3 separate regions of the Homo sapiens genome follow, and all the other regions are linked to region 1. The links come from fine-mapping of genetic effects on gene expression. A gene starts in region 1. Each other region holds a variant in brackets. All regions are shown on one strand. Distances are from middle to middle. Region 1 holds the start of AQP3 (aquaporin 3 (Gill blood group)). Region 2 overlaps LOC105376020 (a long non-coding RNA gene). Region 3 has its middle 22 kb from the start of AQP3.

The links. PIP is the estimated chance that this variant, and not a neighbour inherited with it, causes the effect.
Region 2: its variant is fine-mapped to the expression of AQP3 in whole blood (INTERVAL, PIP above 0.99). The same link has a PIP of 0.9 or more in blood mononuclear cells.
Region 3: its variant is fine-mapped to the expression of AQP3 in lung (GTEx, PIP above 0.99). The same link has a PIP of 0.9 or more in pancreatic islets and subcutaneous fat.

Annotation. Positions count from the first base shown.
Region 1 is chr9:33,444,122-33,450,821 of GRCh38, reverse strand. It overlaps AQP3 (aquaporin 3 (Gill blood group)), which reads left to right and starts at 3,229. Exons shown (of 6, transcript NM_004925.5): 1 at 3,229-3,399. The coding sequence starts at 3,292. RefSeq lists a silencer at 3,054-3,243.
Region 2 is chr9:33,410,185-33,416,884 of GRCh38, reverse strand. It overlaps LOC105376020 (a long non-coding RNA gene), which reads right to left. Exons shown (of 3, transcript NR_188543.1): 3 at 6,335-6,645. Among named protein-coding and RNA genes, the nearest start is that of AQP7, 11 kb to the right of the region's middle. RefSeq lists enhancers at 1,249-1,779, 1,780-2,311. The variant T/C (reference allele first, on the strand shown) is at 2,863.
Region 3 is chr9:33,422,127-33,428,826 of GRCh38, reverse strand. No RefSeq gene overlaps it. Among named protein-coding and RNA genes, the nearest start is that of AQP3, 22 kb to the left of the region's middle. The variant A/C (reference allele first, on the strand shown) is at 3,678.

The DNA of each region.
Region 1 (6,700 bases):
GGTCATTAGAGTCCTCATGTGGGGGTTCTATATATGTGTGAGCCCATGGCGAGGCTCTCATGTGAATGGGATCCCTGATCATGGGAGCAGAGCTCAGTGTCTATAGGCAAGTGTGTGACTGCAAACCACAGGGTGTGTGTGTGTGTCTGTGTGTTTGTGTGTGTGTATGCGCAAGCACCTGCATGTATGTGAATCTACTTCATGTGTATGCTAAACCCATCTCTTTGGGCATGAACCACCTCTGGGACTGGGAGCCCTTATTTCCTTTCTTTTCTTTTCTTTTTTAACATGCCTATCTAGGCCAGGTACGGTGAATCATGCCTGTAATCCCAGCACTTTGGGAGGCCGAGACGGGTGGATCACCTGAGGTCAGGAGTTCGAGACCAGCCTGGCCAACGTGGTGAAACCCCGTCTCTACTAAAAAAAACAAAAAACAAAAAACAAAAAAATTGGCTGGACATGGTGGTGCATGCCTGTAATCCCAGCTACTCGGGAAGCTGAAGCAGGAGAATCGCTTGAACCCAGGTGGGGTGATCTTGGCTCACTGCAACCTCTGCCTCCTGGGTTCAAGTGATCCTCCTGTCTCAGCCTCCCGAGTAGCTGGGATTACAGGCATGTGGCAGAGGTGGTTGATGCCCAAAGAGATGGGTTTAGCAATACTCATAATCCTACAATCCAAGCACTCTAGGAGGCCAAGGTGGGCAAATTGCTTGAGCTCGGGAGTTCCAGACCAGCCTGGCCAACATGGCGAAACCCCTTCTCTACAAACAATACAAAAATTAGCCGGGCATCGTGATGCATGCCTGTAGTCCCAGCTATTTGAGAGGCTGAGGTGGGAGGATTGTTTGATCCCATGAGCTAGAGGCTGGAGTGAGTCATCATCCATGTTTTTAAGAGCTTGTTTAGCTTCTTCTGCTACCTCTCCTGACACAACCTGTCCACTTGAAGGGTCCATGCCTATCTGTCCTGAAATGTCAATGGTCCTGTCACCTAACATAGTTTGACTGTAGGTCCCAGTGGCCCCTGGGGCTTTCTTGGTGCTGATCACATTTCTGATCAAGGACGACAGGACTAACCCTTCTCTCTTTTGGTCCCTCTGGGAGAAGAACCTCTGCACTAGCCCTGCTCGCTTCTCAATGAACCGTGGGAGCCCTTTTTTTTTTTTTTTTTTTTGAGATGGAGTTTGGCTCTTGTTGCCCAGGCTGGAGTGCAATGGCATGATCTCAGGTCACTGCAACTTCCGCCTCCTGGGTTCAAGTGATTCTCCTGCCTCAGCCTCCCGAACAGCTGAGATTACAGGCACCCGCCATCACGCCCGGCTAATTTTTGGTATTTTTAGTAGAGACAGGGTTTCACCATGTTGGTCAGTGTGGTCTTGAACTCCTGACCTCAGGTGATCTGCCCGCCTCGGCCTCCCAAAGTGCTGGGATTATAGGCGTGAGCCACCACGCCCAGCCGGGGGCCCTTATTTCTCATATTCGTCCCTCAAGGGACAAGTCCTCAGGGTCATTAGCCCACCTGGATTAAGTCCCTCTGGAAAATGATTTCTTTGATCTCCTCTGGCAATGCTGCCATAGAAGCTCAGCCTAAGGGCATGTTGTTTGCTCCCAGGCCACCAGATGTTTCCTTGTTATTAAAAGCAGCATAGAGGGCAAGGTTGCACTTCGGGAGGCCGAGGTGGGAGGATCGTTTAAAGCCAGGAGTTTGAGACTAACCTGGGCAACATAGCAAGACCTCATTTTTACAACAGATTTTTAAAAATTAGCTGAGTGTCATGGTGGCACATAGTCCCTATAGTCCCATCCATTCTGGAGGCTGAGGTGGGAGGATCACTTGGGCCCAGGAGTTCGAGGCTACAGTGAGCTGTGATTGCACCACAGCCTGGGTGATGGAGCAAGACCCTACTCTTTAAAAAGAGAGAGAGGGCAAGGTTGTCCCATGATCCCCCTCAGATAGGGCTGACTCCCCCATAATTAAGTTTGCTTAAAGAGGCAGACTTGCTGGGCTCAGTGGCTCACGCCTGTAATCCCAGCACTTTGGGAGGCTGAGGCGGGTGGATAACTTGTGGTCAGGAGTTCGAAATCAGCCTGGTCAACATGGTGAATCCCCATCTCCACTAAAAAAACAAAAATTAGCTGGGCATGGTGGTGTGCACCTGTAATCCCAGCTAATCGGGAGGCTGAAGCAGGAGAATCACTTGAACCTGGGAGGTGGAGGTTGCAGGGAGCCGAGATCACGCCATTGCACTCCACCTAGGCGACAGAGAGAGACTCCGTCTAAAAAAAAAAAAGAGACAGACTCTTCCTTGGCTGGGGGTAAGTCAGATGGGAGAGGAGAGGGTTAAAAACAGCTGGGACTCAGCCTGCTGGCAAACATGTGGCATGTGGCATGTCGGGGCAACTGCAGCTCAGCCTCTGGAGCCATGTGAGCAATGCACGCAGGTACACGTGTGACAAGCTAGGTCACCTAGCCATGTTCAACAGGCATGTGCACAGCCACGAGGAATGCCCAGCCGTACAATTAGGCACACAGGACATCCGCCATGTGTAGACACAGCTGTGGACATAGCTGGCCAGGACATGCGACACACGACGTGCTCATAGCACAGGGAGAAGGGCCCATGAAGTCTGGTTGGAACTCAGCACGTGTGTCTGTGTGCCCACCTGAGTCTGGACTGCTGCCCCTCTGACACTAGCTGTCCCCTTGAAGGGTCGGTGCCTTATCTGTCCTGACAGAAGAGACAGTGTTGCTTCTCACTTGGGGCTCGCAGCCTCCTCCTCCTGCCTCGAACTGAGGATCTGTTGGGTCCAGTCATCCTGGAGAGATGCGGCCAGTTTCTTTCTGACAGGTCTCCTCCTGCCCGCAAGGAAGTGGGGTGATCACAGGGCGCAGGTGGTCTCTATGACAGCTGCATCCTCTCCAGCCATGGCCCTGAACCCTGCCTATAATCCCACCATTGGCTCTCAGATCTGCCTAAGCCTCTCAGCCCCCTTGACGTCCCCTCCCTTAAGCGCCCTCCGAAGGCCACCCGTCCCTCAAAGCTCCTCACACTCCATGCCCGCAGCTCCCTCCACCCGGCGTCCGCACCAGCCTCCCAGCCGAGGTGGGGCGGGGGCGAGGGGGCGCGCACTCCTCGGCGCTCCGGGACTGCAGGGCGGGGCTGCAGGGCGGGCGGGGCCCGTGTCTCCAGCGCTCCTATAAAGGGAGCCACCAGCGCTGGAGGCCGCTGCTCGCTGCGCCACCGCCTCCCGCCACCCCTGCCCGCCCGACAGCGCCGCCGCCTGCCCCGCCATGGGTCGACAGAAGGAGCTGGTGTCCCGCTGCGGGGAGATGCTCCACATCCGCTACCGGCTGCTCCGACAGGCGCTGGCCGAGTGCCTGGGGACCCTCATCCTGGTGGTGAGTGGAGGGAGCCGGGGAAGCCCTTCTCTCTCCAGCCCTTGCACTCCCCAAACTCTCACTTCCCCGAAGGGGCTGTGTTTTCCAAGGTAGCCTGGACCCACCTCCCCAGCTGTGACCCCCACGCTTAACCGCGGAGGATCAAGCTGACTTCCAAAGTCCTCTTCCCCACGGTTCTAACCCCCTCTCTGACAGCTCCGACTCTTGCCAGAATGACAGCTGTTACTCCCCAGTGATAGTGCCGATCGTTTACCCTCCCACAAGTGACTCAGCCAACAGGCTGGGGGCAGCGGTCACGCTTGCAGTCTGGGACAGCCAGCCACTTCCCCTGCCTCCCACACCCCTCCAGATTCCCAGAATCCCAGCCCCCAGATGTAGGGGAGGGGGCGGAGGCAAATGAGCCATTATTAGGTTATTTGGGTCCTGGGTGTCTGGCCTCTAATGAATAATTAAGCCTCAAAAAGTCCAAAGGTTGAAGTGAGTGAGGACAGTTTGCACGAGTGGGGGCAGAGGGTGCAGGCCACATGGGCTGCGAACAGCGAAGTGGGAAGGGAGGCAGATTCTGACGGTAGAAGGGTGGGAGGAAGCTAGGCCCAGGCACAGAGGACGCGTGTCTAAAGTTGCTCACCTGGTGCTCAGCGACTCCCAGGCCCTGTCTGTTATCCAGACAGATGCTGTCAGCGTCTGTGCAGAAGACGACAAGCATTCTGGTTACTCCCTGGCCTCTTGGTTACTCTGTGGGTTCTCTGAGTGAGCATTTCCCTGCCTGAGTTACTCCTCAGTCCTAGTTACTCCTTGGTCACACCAGTTTCACCCTGGTTTTGTTCTGAGTGACTCTGTTTGCACTTCTTAGGTCTGGCAGACCCACCAGTTATGTTCTATTTCCTGTCCCAGTTACTCTGATTTTTCAGCCGCTCATGTGGTTACACCTGTTTTCCTCTGTGTTCAGTTGCTACATTGCAGTGAGTGGGTTACTCCGTTCCTGCCCCAGCCCTGGGTAGTACAGACCAGCTGGCCCACTGTGGACTAGGAAGCCTAACTAAGGGCAAGTAGGGATCCCCAAATGGTTGAGGATCAGGATCTATGGGCAGAGGAGGGCTGAAACCCACTTCTGGCTTCCAAGAATAGGAAGTGGGGAAGCCACAGGGGGCATTTTATCCACAGCCTCCCATAAGATTAGTCGTCCTATCAGCCAGCCCTAGCCCCTCTCTCCTGTGCCAAGAAGGCAATAGGAGGTGGCCTTTATCACTCTCCTGCCTCGGAGCCCTCACTCCTATCGGAGTCCTGAGTCCAGCCACCTGTTTTAGAGCAGCCAGGCTAGGGGAGGATGATGTCTTCTATTTTCCTAGAGGGGCCTCCTCATTCCCTCCCAAGTCTCAGTTCACTCTCTCACAAAGGAGCCGTTAGTCCTCCCACTGAGCCCCAGGATCATCAGGCTTATCCCAGACCACAAAAGAAGAGTGTTAAATTTTAGGGGAAGGGTTGCAGACTCAGATGGATGTGAGGTATTGGATATCAGTGAGAAGCAGAACTTCAAGGACTGCATGAACTGGAGGGGCAGGCCTGGGGATCCCTTTGTAGTGGGTGAGTGCCTGCCTGCCTACCTGCGTGTTGGGAGCCTAGGCCTGCAGTGGCAGAATCAGGGTTGGCTTTGGGGTGAGGAAAGCCCCTTTCTCTGAGATACCTGGTGTGAGGGCAGGGGGCGGTGCTGGCCGAGAACTCAGGGCAGGGGTTGGGGGAGGAAGAGGAAGATTAGCCCCAAGGTGGTGGAACTGGCTCTGACAGCTCCTCCCTCCAAGGCGTCCTGGGATGGAGCCAGGTCTGAGCCTTTGGCAGGCAAGGAGCTGCTGCCAGGGCCTCCCAAGCAGGGCAGGGCGCCTCAGACCCTCACGTGCCTGTCTCCCACCACCCCTCCTCACACATACACCTGCAATCTCTGATCTTTGCTCTCACCTGCCTGCACACCTTTGCCCCATGTCATTGCCGCTGGCTTCTCCGTTATCTCTTGGTCTTTCTGGGATGATAATCAAAATGCTTAACTATCCAGTACAACAGGCACTGACCCGTCAGAATAAACAAGGTCTGTAGCACAGGTCCTGGAAACTGCCTGCTCTGTGGGCATAAAACCTTTAGTTATGGGCAGGTGGGAGAGGAGACCAGGGCAAGGCATTGGAGCAGCTTTGAGGGACACTCAGGGGGCTCAGGGCAACAATGCTTTACAGCTGCTGCAGAAGTATTTTCAGGCTTGAACAAGGGGAACAGACATAGTACGTTCTTTTTCTTTTTTAAATAGAGACAAAGTCTCACTATGTTGCCCAGGCTGTTCTCAAACTCCTGGGTTCAAGATCCTCCCATCTCAGCCTCCAAAGTGCTGGGATTACAGGTGTGAGCCACCACAGCTGGCTCCAGTATGTTCTATATTTGTAGAACACCAGGGCTCTTAGTCTCTTTTAGTTCCCCCATTTTTGGCAGAAAGTTTAGAACCGATCTCCCCATTTCTACAGCCCTGGGTCCCGGGCTGGGGATAGTGAGAGGAGCCACACAGATCCCTGTCTGTAGGACCTCCAAATCTGAGTGGGGAATCTGGACCCCTGAGAGCAGAGAGGTCATGGGTGGAGAGAGGAGACGCTGGGACAGGGACAGGTAAAGGAAGGGGAGGTTGTTGAGGGGGACATGGTGAAGGCTGGGGCTCTGGCATCCTGGACTCAGGAGAAGTGGATTCAACCTCACTTCTGGTCTCCTCCCTATTTATTTATGCCGCCCATTGCCACCACTACCACCACCACATGAGCTTTTCTTTTCAACTCTTTTTTTTTTTTTTTTGAGATGGAGTCCCGCTCTGTCGCCCAGGCTGAAGTGCAGTGGCGCAATCTTGGCTCACTGCAACATCTGCCTCCCATTTTCAAGTGATTCTCCTGCCTCAGCCTCCCGAGTAGCTGGGATTACAGGCACCTGCCACCACGCCTGGCTAATTTTTGTACTTTTAGTAGAGATGGGGTTTCACTATGTTGGCCAGGCTGGTCTCAAACTCCTGACCTCAGGTGATCCACCCACCTCGGCCTACCAAAGTGCTGGGATTACAGTGTGAGCCACTGCACCGGGCCTACATGAGCTTTTCTTTGGGGCAGCTGGGGGATGAGTGAGAGGCTTCCCACCTTTATGGTCCAGGCCTGAAGGGCTGTGGAGAAACTTGTGCTAAGGTGAAAGCTGTTCCCCTACACCTACGCCTGCTGAAATTCAAGGAAAATCAGTGAAGATGGTTCAGTCATCTTCTAGGATCCCAGTCGCAGACCCTGCTTCC
Region 2 (6,700 bases), 34 kb after region 1:
TCAGAGCCTGTCGAGCCATAAGAAGCGGAGGTCTGAGAGGTGGGAAGGGCTCTCTAATGACAGCTCATCTTCCCCAAGAAGGACTTGGCTGGATCAGCTGGCAGAGCTGGGCACCCTAAGCCTGTGGTGACGGCAGCAGCTTCCCTAACCTTATCCCTAAGCTCCCGGCTGCAGGCCAGGGTGGTTCCACTGTCCTAACCCTGAGACGGCATTTACACCCCACAGGCCACACAGGCAGGCTGGGAGCAGTGAGTGGCAGGTGGGCACTCAGTCATTGCTTTCTCTTACCCCCTCTGCAGGCAGGAGGGACGTGAGGGTCCTGGCTGCGTCTGGTCTGAGGGGCTGTGGGGTGAGCACGTCAGCCCCAGGTTGCGCATGCCCCTGGTTTGTGTGGCACTGTATGCACACTCCACAACTTGGTGTGTTGGCCCCTGCCCCGGCACCTGGGGCCTGGTGCTGCCTTCCCATCACACTCCATGATCTGAGAGATGCTTGAAGAGGGCCAAAGAGTCTGGACTAGGAGCCAGGAAGCTCTCACTTGGTGACTTTGGAGATGTCCCTTTACCATGTCTGGGGCTCAATTTGTAGAGGGGCAATAATCCCTGTGGGGTCACCTTGCCAGGCTGCTGGGTAACAGATTCTCATGGAGGCGCACGGAAAGTCAGGAAAGCTCGGTCCTGGAGGCTTCCTATGGGGGATGGTGGTGTCCCCTGTGTTGCTCGGTTGAAGGACTAGGGGCTGAAATCAGATCGCAGCCTCCAGGGAACTTGCACTGCCCCACAGAGGGGTTCAGACCTCCTGGAGATGTGAGGCATTAGAGTTCTGGGGCTGAGCTTCCAAATAAACTTCAAAACAGTGATGTGACAGGCCAAGACCTGCTCTCAGTGAGGCTGGAAAAATCCTTCCACCCATCCCTGCCCATGGGCCCCGACCCTGCTGCTGGAGTGAGCTGCCATGAACTCCAGCCTGAGCCCGGGAACCAGCTCAGATCTTACCCTGTCTCTCATTTGCCTCCGTCCCCACCCCCAGCCTGCTGCCTCTCAGGTTCACACTTCCTGGGCTCAGAGTTTCATCCTGAGGCTGTTGGCTCAGCCAGAGCAAACAGAGACAGCACTAAAGTCAACAAAACCAGAGAGCAAGCAGCGCAGGTGACGTGGAAAAGAAAACTTGGAAGCCACAACAAAGGCATGTGGGCTGGGCCGGGTGGAGCCCTTGAGGGGACTGGAGTTGGGGACGCACGGGTGACACCTCCAGTGGACTCAGGCTAAAGGAGTCAGCTTCGGCTGCCAGCAGGGGGTGCTAGAGCCAGTCTCATGGGTGCTGAAAACAGGATGAGGTTGGGAGTCTGGGGGTTAAGGTTCCACCTTACCCAAACCCATCTCACTGAGGCTCTTGGCTGGGTTGCCTCAGCTGCTGTGAAAGGAGTGAGAGGCTCAACTAGGGGCCAGGGTTGTGGGTAGGGGCGTGCAGGGCGGGAGTAGACAGGCTGGAACAGGAGAAAGGAGGAGCTCCCGGCTCACTGCCCCACCCCAGGTGCTTCCCCCGCACCCCCTCGCCCAGGGCTCAAGGGCTTGGAGCCGTGAATTCCTGGGGATGCCCAGGACGCCCCCACAGGCAGAGTCACCTGACAAACTGTTTCTCTCCCACTCAGTGGGGGAAAGCTCCATTCTCTCAACATTTATTGTGCATCTGCTATGTTCCCAGTGTAGGAGAAATCGTCTGGGAATCAAATGGCCCCACCCGTCACGGGCTCAGCAAGCCAGTTGTCCCCAGGAGGCAGCCTGCCCAAGGCCCTGTCATGCCTGGAACCCCCACCCGCTCAGTGAGTCGGCTGCCTGTTAACTGGGCTGGCAATTGCAGGGTGCCTGGGGCAGCCTGGCCCCTAGACTGAGGGGGTGACCAAGGGTTCAAGTCCAGAAAGCTAAGCCACTAGGCTGCAATGGCAAGGGCTGGGAGACCAGACACACCATTGGAGCGGCTGAAGAGGAAGGTGGATGTCCCTGAGCATTGCTCTTGCTGTCTGCAGAATGAGCATATTATACTCTACTCCCAGCACTTCTAGTTTGGCCCTGGCATCAGGCAAGAATCTGTTAGGGCAGGAGAAGGACAGGAGGTGTGGAGTACAGAGTTTCCCTCCCTCAGATGGGCTTCCTACCCACCACCCAGAGAGTTTACTCTACCAGGCCCTTGCCATGCCCCCTGCCCACTCAGTCCATTCTCCCAACAACCCTGCAAGATAAGGATTCATATCTTCATTTTACAGATGAAGAAGCCCAGTTAAATTTCTTGCTTTAAGTCACCCAATGCTGATTAAGAAGCTGAGCTGGATTCAAGTTCAGGTCTGTCTGTCTAAAAAGCCTGAGCTATAAACAACTCACACCCAGGTGGGGCCCTGAGTAGGGAAACTTCAAACCAGCCTCAAACTCAGGCTCCTGGCCAGGAGGTCTCTGGGTTTTTCCACTGCTCCTTCCGGCCACCACTTCAGTCTCTCCTTCCTCCTTCTCATGATGCGTCCCTTATCCTGAGCCTCCTCCCTGCTCCGATTAACCTGGTACCTGAGTCTCTACCATTTTTAGACTCTTTCTTTCCTGTGGGTTAGGAAATTGCTGCTTGGAGCTTTTCCTTTAAAATGCTTTACTGTGGAAAGATTATGAAATGGGTTTAGGCAGAAATCAAAGAATAAAAGCAGAAGGCGAAGTACTGATGCGGGGGACGGGGGGAATGTGACAATGGAGGGGTCAGGCTGTCACTCCCTGAAGCCACTGAGCAGTTGGCATCACTGAGCATGGGCAGCTAGACATGACGTGTCTCCTGATGGGATGAAATAGGAAGCATGCAGCACCTCCACAGAGGACCCGCTGC[T/C]CCAGCCCACATGCAAGACTGAACCTAAATAAAATCACACCAGACCGGGCGCGGTGGCTCGTGCCTGTAGTCCCAGCACTTTGGATGGCCGAGGTGGGTGGGTTGCTTGAGCCCAGGAGTTCGAGACCAGCCTGGGTACATGGCGAGACCCCATCTCTACAAAAAATACAAAAATTAGCGTGGCATGGTGGCATGCGCCTGTCGTCCCAGCTGAGAGAATCACTTGAACCCGGGAAGTCAAGGCTGCAGTGAGCAACATTCACGCCACTGCATTGCAGCCTGGGCAACAGAGCGAGACTGTCTCAAAAAAATAAACAAAGCCAGGCAGGGTGTGTTGGCTCACGCCTGTAATCCCAGCACTTTGGGAGGCCAAGACGGGCGGATCATGAGGTCAGGAGATCGAGACCATCCTGGCTAACACGGTGAAACCCTGTCTCTACTAAAAATACAAAAAAATTAGCCAGGCATGGCGGTGGGTGCCTGTAGTCCCAGCTACTCAGGAGGCTGAGGCAGGAGAGTGGCGTGAACCCGGGAGGCAGAGCTTGCAGTGAGCTGAGATCACACCACTGCACTCCAGCCTGGGTGACAGAGTGAGACGCTGTCTCAAAATAAATAAATAAATAAAATTAATAAAAAATAAATAAACCATACACCATTAGAGCTCTTTTTTTTTTTTTTTTTTTTTTTTGAGACAGAGTCTTGATCTGCCACCCAGGCTGGAGTGCAGTGGCACAATCTTGGCTCACTGCAACTTCTGCCTCCCAGGTTCAAGCAATTCTTGTGACTCAGCCTCCTGAGTAGCTGGGACTACTCAGGCACCCACCACCCCACCTGGCTAATTTTTTTGTATTTTTAGTAGAGACGGGGTTTCACCGTGTTGGCCAGGTTGGTCTCGAACTCCTGACCTCAGGTGATCCTCTCGCCTCAGCTTCCCAAAGTGCTGGGATTACAGGAGTGAGCCACCACACCTGGCCACTTTTTTTTGTTTTTGAGGCAGAGTCTTGTTCTGTTGCCCAGGCTGGAGTGCAGTGGTGCAATCTTCGCTCACTGCAATCTCTGCCACCTGGGTTCAAGTGATTCTCCTGCCTCAGCTTCCCCAGTGGCTAGGACTACAGGCGTGCACCACCACGCCCAGTTAATTTTTGTATTTTTAATAGAGACGGAGTTTCATCATGTTAGCCAGGCTGGTCTCAAACTCCTGACCTCAGACGATCCTCCTGCCTTGGTTTCCTAAAGTGCTGGGATTACAGGTGTGAGCCACTGCGCCCAGCCCAGAGCTGACTTCTCATATTTTTTTTTTATTTCTTTCTCTTTTTTTTTTTCTTTTTTTTTTGAGACAGGGACTTGCTCAATGGCACAGACATGGCTCACTGCAGCCTTGACTTCCCAGGTTCAAGTGATCCTGCTGCCTCAGGCTCCTGAGTAGCTGGGACTACAGGTGCATGCCACCATGCCTGGCTAATTTTTTTCCTTTGAGATGGAGTCTCGCTCTGTCGCCCAGGCTGGAGTGCAGTGGTGTGATCTTGGCTCACTGCAAGCTCCGCCTCCCGGGTTCACGCCATTCTCCTGCCTCAGCCTCCTGAGTAGCTGGGACTACAGGCGCCCACCACCACGCCCAGCTAATTTTTTGTATTTTTAGTGGAGATGGGGTTTCACCATGTTAGCCAGGATGGTCTCGATCTCCTGACCTCATGATCCGCCTGCCCCGGCCTCCCAAAGTGCTGGGATTACAGGTGTGAGCCACTGCGCCTGGCAATTTTCGTGTTTTCTGTAGAGATTGGAATTCTCCATGTTGCCCAGGCTGGCATTGAACTCCTGGGCTCTAATGATCCACTTGCCTTGGCCTCCCACAGTGCTGGAATTAGGGGTGTGGGCCACTGTGCCCAGCCACTTACTCAAAGAAATACAGGGGATGACGGAAAAGCTGAATGACACTACAAAGAAAAAACACAGACAAATCTAGAATGTGGGACTCTTACAGGACTACATTTATTCAGCAAGTCAATGACATGAAAAAATAATGATGGAGAAAGGGGAATTCCTCTTGTTTAAGAGAACATTTAACCCAACGTAATGTGTGACCTTGTTTGGATCCTGATGCAAACAATCCAACAAATCAATGCAAAAAGACACTTTGAAACAATTCCAAGTATTTGATCATTCTATGGAATTGTATATTTTGTCAGGTATGGCACTGATTATTTAAGAAAATGTTCCTATATTTTAGAGGGAACACTGAAGAATGTAGGAATGAAATGACAGAGTAGCTGGAATTTAACATATTTCAGAAAAATAAAAATAAAATAAAATAGGCAGTTTGAGACCAGCCTGGCCAACATGGTGAAACCCCATCTCTACTAAAAATACAAAAATTAGCCGGGCCTGGTGGTGGGTGCCTGTAATTCCAGCTACTTGGGAGGCTGAGGCACAAGAATCTCTTGAACCTGGGAGGTGGAGGATGCAGTGAGCTGAGATCGCTCCATTGCACTCCAGCCTGGGCAACAGAGCGAGACTCCGTCTCAAAAAGGGGAAAAAAATGGCTGTAAAATGGAGAATGAGTGAGGGTGATGCAGGAGAGGTGAGCCCCAAAGTGGGGCTTGGCCTGCGAGGGTTCTCGGCTTTGCCTCTCAAGGGCAATGCAGAGAGAAGTAGAAGAAAACAGCTTTATTGAAGCGGCAGTGTTACAGCTCCATGACTGCCCCTGCACAGCAGGGCTATACAGAGGCGGAGAGCAGCAGCCCAGGGCAGTTTTGCAGTTATATTTATACCCACTTTTAATTGTATGCAGATTAAGAGGCAATTTATGCAGAAATTCCTAGGGAAGGGGTGGTAACTTTTGGGCCATTGGGTCATTGCCATGGAAAGGGGTGATAACTCCCAGGTGTTGAGATGGCAATGATAAATTAACATGGCACATTGGGGCGCATGTCTGATTAGAAAGCTGCTTCCAGCCCTGTTTTAGCTAGTCCTCAATCTGGTCCAGTGTCCAAGCCCCACCTCTGGAGTCAAGTCCCGCCTCCTACTTCAAGGGGGATGCAGACCGGGAGACCCGTGGAGAGGCTCTTGGAGATTAGATTTGGGGCTGATTGAGGGGGCCACGAGAGAGGGAGTAGTTGAGTGACTCCTGGAGGGAAAGCTTCAGAGATGTGGTGGGGAGGAGCATTCCTTGGGCTAGGCCCTTGGGAAGGGGGCAGACTGTGGGGAGGTGAGGTTGGGTTGGGGCAGGTGAAGGTAATGTGCTTGTTACACATACGAGATAACAAGAGAGGAGGCTGGACCACTTGTTCTTGAGCTCCGGGCTGGAGATGGAGGCTGGGGAGGTGGCAGCATTTGCGTGGGGGAAGAGGATGTGAGAGCCATGCAGGGCTGCCTTCTCCATGACGCACAGGAGGCACAGGACCCATGAGAATGTTCAATCTAAGGGCCCACAAAATGTTTTAGTTTGCATCCAAATAAGAAAAAGAAGAACTTGTAGGCTGAAGAAAATGTTTTAATATTGATACATCAGGGCCGGCGTGGTGGCTCACACCTATAATTCCACTTATTTGGGAGGCCGAGGCGGGTGGATTGCTTGAGCTCAGGAGTTTGAGACTAGCCTGGGCAACATGGAGAAACTCCGCCTTTACAAAAAATACAAAAATTAGCCAGGAGTGGTGGCAGGCACCTGTAATCCCAGCTACTTGGGAGGCCAAGGCAGGAGAATCGCTTAAGCCCAGGAGGCAGAGGTTGCAGTGAGCTGAGATCGCACCATTGTACTCCAGTCTGGGTGACGGGAGTGAAACCCTGTCTCGGAAAAAAAAAAAAAATTAATATATTTGTCTTTATACCAATAGTTGTA
Region 3 (6,700 bases), 22 kb after region 1:
CTCACTGCAACCTCCACCTCCCGAGTTCAAGAGATTCTCCTGCCTCAGCCTCCCAAGTATCTGGGATTACAGGCGCGTGCCACTACGCCCGGCTAATTTTTGTATTTTTAGTAGAGACAGGGTTTCGCCATATTGCCCATGCTGGTCTCAAACTCCCAACCTCAAATGATCTGCCCACCTTGGCCTACCAAAGTGCTCGGAATACAGGCGTGAACCTCCGTGCCTGGTGGGGAATTTACCTTGTACAACACGTTCAAATTGAATATTAAACATCTCTATTCTTCGAAATCATTTTGGCTCCTCCACCAGAGGCTATTTCTCCCTGGCCCCTTCACCCCACTTAGTACCCCTGCCTCTGGCCACACTGCTGGTTTTCTCTACCCTCCCATCCCCCCCTCCTTACTTTCTCTCTCCTGATTGCTCACTATACTCTAAATTACTTTTTATACAGTGTTTAGCTTAGCCGAAGGGTCACTGGCACAGTCCCCAAGATTTCCTTTAATGAGACCCACTCTCTTCAGGGTTGTGTTTTGTTTTGGTTTGGTTTGTTTTGTTTTTTGAGATGGAGTTTTACTCTTGTTGCCCAGGCTGGAGTGCAATGGCATGATCTCGGCTCACTGCAACCTCTGCCTCCTGGGTTCAAGCGATTCTCCTGCCTCAGCCTCCCGAGTAGCTGGGATTACAGGCATGCGCTACCACGCCCGGCTAATTTTGTATTTTTAGTAGAGATGGGGTTTCTTCACGTTGGTCAGGCTGGTCTCGAACTCCCGACCTAGGGTGATCCGCCCTCCTCGGCCTCCCAAAGTGCTGGGATTACAGGCGTGAGCCACCGCGCCTGGTCTCTTCATGGTTTAAAAAGCAGTTTGCACCAGTCTGGGCAACATAGTGAGACCCTGTCTCTACAGAAAATAAAAAATAATAGCCGGGTGTCGTGGCACACACCTGTAGCCTCAGCTATTCAGGAGGCTGAGGCAGGAGGATCGCTTGAGTCCAGGAGGTCAAGGCTGCAGTGAGCCATGATCACACCCCTGTACTCCAGCCTGGGTGACAGAGTGAGATCCTGTCTCAAAAAAAAAAAAAAAAAGTTTGCCCCACTCTGTTACAAGTAAGTAGCACTGTCCCAATGGTGGCTGCCATTCGCTGCCATTGTTCTTCCAGACTGAGCTTCATGGAGACAGGGACACAGGTCTGGTTGTGCAAGTCAGCCCCTAGTACCTTGCAAGGAGTTTAATAAATATTTGTGGGATGAATGGATGGGATTATTCAGAACCCTCTTGAAGTCCACCTTCCTTTCTCTCTCCCCACAGGGGATAGTTACGAGAAAGAATTAGAGGCCCAGAAACTTCTAATGGGGTCAGCCGTGGAAGAAGCCTGGTGGAATAGACAAAGCTCTGGCTAGAACTTTTGTAGTCTGTAAGGAGAAGGAGGCTAAGTGTTTGTGGCCAACCCCAGATTGGAGTGGATGTGGACCCAGGAGGGAGGAGGCAGAGATGACATTAAGGTTCCATGCCTGGGTCCTTCGATGGGCCTGGGCACAGCCGACACAGGCACCTAGCCTGCCCCCACGGCTGGGGCTCCACCTAGAGATCTTATCCACGGCATGGCTGATACATGGTACTGAGTCATGAGACCTGCGGCCTAGGAAACAGTTCCGCTGTTGAAACAGGCCCAGGGGAGGGGGGCTAGATGGGTGTCTCTGACTTGCTACTGGCACAGACATCATTGCCACCCACACTTCCTGTCACCCCTGGGTCACCTTGATGGTCATCACTCCTCTCTGACCCTGTCACTCATTTGTCACCCTCACCATCATCCCTGCATCACAACCACTGCCCCTTTCTTACCCACGCTGTCACTTGACCCAGTTCCCATCATCGTGTTACCTTCTTGAGCATTGCCACCATCCCTGCCCCTGCCCCATGCCCAAGCCTGTGGCTATCTGGACCAACCCTTTGTCAACCACCTCCAACCCAACCTGTCACTTGCTAGTTCATTCCCATCTCTCCTGTCACCTTGACTGTCCCCACCCGACCCTGTCACCTTGTCACCTTTGCTGCCACAGCCCCAACATAGTCTCCCGCTCTTACCACCTATCTCAGTCCCCATCATCTCTAAGTCTTCTGGACTGTCACCACCCTCCTGCTGCCCCTTTGTTAGTCAACCACTACTGCCCTACCTCTGCCTCCTCCCGATCATCATCCACATCCTCTGATCTCAAGCCCCTCACTGAGGTCCCCTTGGTGTCTTTCTCTTTGACATGCTCAACATGTGCCCACATTTGAGACTTTGCCCCTGCCTTTCCAGCCTCTGGCCTCCTCTGGGCTTCCTGACCTGGATTTGCTACACTTAGCTTTGCCGTCTGCCCTGGCAAGCGATGCTTCATTTTGACCTCTAGGTGGGCTAGGCCTTGGGCCTAGGCACTTATTCCCAGGGTATTAAATAAATACCAGGTAGAAGCCTTTTCCAGGAAGCCCTGAATCTTCTCTGCATGCACTCATGACAACTGGCAGTTGCCTCTGCCCAGCCTGGCCCTAAAATCTCCATTTATTAACATGACAATTATTTTCCTTTTTAGAATTCCCCAATATATCCCCTTTTTTTTGAGACAGAGCCTCACTCTGTCCCCCAGGCTGCAGTGCAATGGCGAGATCTTGGCTCACTGCAACCTCTGCCTCCCGGGTTCAAGTGATTCTCCTGCCTCAGCCTCCCAAGTAGCTGGGATTACAGGTGTGCACCACCATGCCCAGCTAATTTTTTTGTATTTTTAGTAGAGACGGGGTTTCACCATGTTGGCCAGGCTGGTGTCGAACTCCTGACCTCAGGTGATCTGCCCACCTCGGCCTCCCAAAGTGCTGGGATTACAGGTGTGAGCCACCGTACCCCAACTGTGTTTTTGTTTTTTTTTTTTGAGACGGAGCGTCGCTCTGTCACCTAGGCTGGAGTGCAATGGCCCAATCTCAGCTCACTGCAACCTCCACCTCTCAGGTTCAAGTGATTCTCCTGCCTCAGCCTCCCGAGTAGCTGGGATTACAGGCATGCACCACCATGCCCGGCTAATTTTGTATTTTTAGTAGAGACGGGGTATCACCATGTTGGCCAGGCTCGTCTCAAACTCCTGACCTCAGGTGATCTGCCCTCCTTGGCTTCCAAAAGTGCTGGGATTCCAGGCGTGAACCACCATGCCCGACCCCAGTGTAACCTTATAATTCATCAGTGTCCCCTTATCCTGATGTGATAGCCCCCCAGTACCTTGACACTTAACACTTATAACTAACCACCATTCGTGTAATCATGTGTTTAAGGCTGTCTTGCCCACCAGGCAGGACGCTGTGGGAGGGCAGTAACTATGTTTTGGTCACTGCCAAGTCCCCATAGTGCCTGACTTCCAGTAGGAAATCCATAAATGTCTGTTGAGTTAATAAATACCATTTACCAAGTCCTTAATATGTGCTGGGCACTATGCTAAGCACTTGATTAACTTGTTTGTTTCCTGTTTTATGTTTGCGGTCCCTTTCTATTTTATGTACTTTTGAGCATTTCAAAGCTTTTTGGCACGGACACTTCTGACAAAGTTCAAACAGAGAAGTGCATTTTCAGTTACTCATCAGAGTGAGGCCACTTAGAGAAAGGCAGTTAGTTACTCACGGAACAGGGAAAACACTTTCTTGTAATTAGGG[A/C]AAAGGGAATCTGGGCATGACATGTCAACTCTGTATTTCATCTTCTGTTCTCCAAGGGAGTTTCAAGAAACTGAGGGAAGGCCGGGCGCCGTGGCTCACACCTGTAATCCCAGCACTTCAGGAGGCCGAGGCGGGCGGATCATGAGGTCAGGAGATAGAGACCATCCTGGCTAACACAGTGAAACCCTGTCTCTACTAAAAATACAAAAAATTAGCCGGGCGTGGTGGTGGACGCCTGTAGTCCCAGCTACTCAGGAGGCTGAGGCAGGAGAATGGCGTGAACCCAGGAGGTGGAGGTTGCAGTGAGCCAAGATCGGGCCACTGCACTCCAGCCTGGGCGACACAGCGATACTCCGTCTCAAAAAAAAAAAAAAAAGAATCAAAAAAATAAAGAATAAAAAAAAAACATAAACTGAGGGCTAAGAGGATGGGGCTCGGGGTTCCTGAAGAAGACCCCTTCTTCTCACCTCTGGAAAGCAAAAACTAGATTCTTTTTTTTTTTTGTTTGTTTTTTTTTTGTTGTTGTGTTCTAGGAAAACTTTATTCATAAACACAGGCAGCCAATAGTTTGCCAACTCCTATTTTAGAACATGAGTGAGAATCATCAATAAAACTACAAATCTTTGCAACAGTCAGAATAAGAAAATAGTGAATTAAAGACTATTAGCATTTCAGCCATCTAGGACAGTGTTCTTCTCATTATCATACGTAAATATTTGTTTTTTTGTTTTTTTTTTTTTAATTGATCATTCTTGGGTGTTTCTCGCAGAAGGGGATTTGGCAGGGTCATAGGACAATAGTGGAGGGAAGGTCAGCAGACAAACAAGCGAACAAAGGTCTCTGGTTCTCCTAGGCAGAGGACCCCGCTGCCTTCCGCAGTGTTTGTGTCCCTGGGTACTTAAGATTAGGGAGTGGTGATGACTCTCAACGAGCATGCTGCCTTCAAGCATCTGTTCAACAAAGCACATCTTGCACCGCCCTTAATCCATTCAACCCTGAGTGGACACAGCACATGTTTCAGAGAGCACAGGGTTGGGGATAAGGTCACAGATCAACAGGATCCCAAGGCAGAAGAATTTTTCTTAGTACAGAACAAAATGAAAAGTCTCCCATGTCTACTTCTATCCACACAGACCCGGCAACCATCCGATTTCTCAATTTTTTCCCCACCCTTCCCGCCTTTCTATTCCACAAAACCGCCATTGTCATCATGGCCCATCCCCAATGAGCCGCTGGGCACACCTCCCAGACGGGGTCGTGGCCGGGCAGAGGGGCTCCTCACTTCCCAGTAGGGGCGGCCGGGCAGAAGCGCCCCTCACCTCCCGGATGGGGCGGCTGGCCGGGCGGGGGGCTGACCCCCCACCACCCTCCCGGACGGGGCGGCTGGCCAGGCAGAGGGGCTCCTCACTTCCCAGTAGGGGCGGCCGGGCAGAGGCGCCCCTCACCTCCCGGATAGGGCGGCTGGCCGGGCGGGGGGCTGACCCCTCCACCCCCCTCCCGGACGGGGCGGCTGGCCGACCCCCCCCGCCGCCTCCCTCCCGGATGGGGCGGCTGGCCGGGCAGAGGGGCTCCTCACTTCCCAGTAGGGGCGGCCGGGCAGAGGCGCCCCTCACCTCCCGGACGGGGCGGCTGGCCAGGCGGGGGGCTGATCCCCCCACCTCCCTCCCGGACGGGGCGGCTGGCCGGGCGGGGGGCTGACCCCCCCACCTCCCTCCCGGACGGGGCGGCTGGCTGGGCAGAGGGGCTCCTCACCTCCCAGTAGGGGCGGCCGAAAAACTAGATTCTTACCTCATGCCATAAAATCGATGGATTCAAGAGGTAAATATAGGCAGGGTGGTAGTTCACACCTGTAATCCCAGCACTTTGGGAGACCGAGGCGGGCAGATCACTTGAGGTCAGGAATTCAAGACCAGCCTGGCCAACAAGACAAAACCCTGTCTTTACAAAAAAATACGAAAATTAGCCAGGCGTGGTGGCGGATGCCTGTAATCCCAGCTACTCCGGAGGCTGAGGTATGAGAACTGCTTGAATCAGGGAGGCAGAGGTTGCAGTGAGCCAAGATCGTGCCACTGCACTCCAGCCTAGGCAACAAAGACCCTGTCTCAAAAAAAAAAAGGTAAATATATAAAGGATTAAAAATTAAAACAAACCTGGATATTTCTCATATTCCTTCCTCAGCTATTTCATCTCTGAGTATGATCCTTGGGAAAGTAATTGCAGAGACAGACAAAGCCTTTGCCCAAAGATCATTCCAATGTTATTTATAATATTGAAACACTGAAATACAAATGTATATTTATGAATAAAAAAATAAAAAATTTAAAAGTTGGAAACAAACTACTCAGTGACAGTGACAGAAGGTAGTTAAATAAAGTATGGTTTGTCTCTTAGTTATTAAAATAATACTTCTGGAGTTGATAATCTATCATCATGGCATTAGCTAAAAAGGGCATTATACCAACAGGCTTATGGGAAATTATTTTCAATTATGTCAGTAGAGCACTTAGAAAGATTAATGGATGAAAAGAAGTGAAAGCATTAATAGGCATTATGTTATTTCTGAATTGTGAGCAATTTGTTTTTACTTGTAGTTTTCGCATTTTCTTTGGTAGGCATTATTACATTTAGAATAAAAGCTATGCATTTATAATAAAAAAAAGAGAGGCAAAAATGGCCAGGTGCGGTGGCTCACACCTGTAATCCCAGCACTTTAGGAGGCCAAGGCGGGTGGGTCACCTAAGGTTGGAAGTTCGAGACCAGCCTGGCCAACATGGTGAAACCTCGTCTCTACTAAAATTACAAAAATTAGCCAGGCATGGTGGCATGTGACTGTAATCCCAGCTCCTCAGGGGGCTGAGGCAGAAAAATTGCTTGAACCCAGGAGGTGGAGGCTGAAGTGAACTGAGATCACACCACTGCACTCCAGCCTTGGCGACAGCGAGGGGCTGGGCGTGGTAGCTCATGCCTGTAATCCCAGTACTTTAAGAGGTTGAGGCAGGTGGATCACCTGAGGTCAGGAGTTT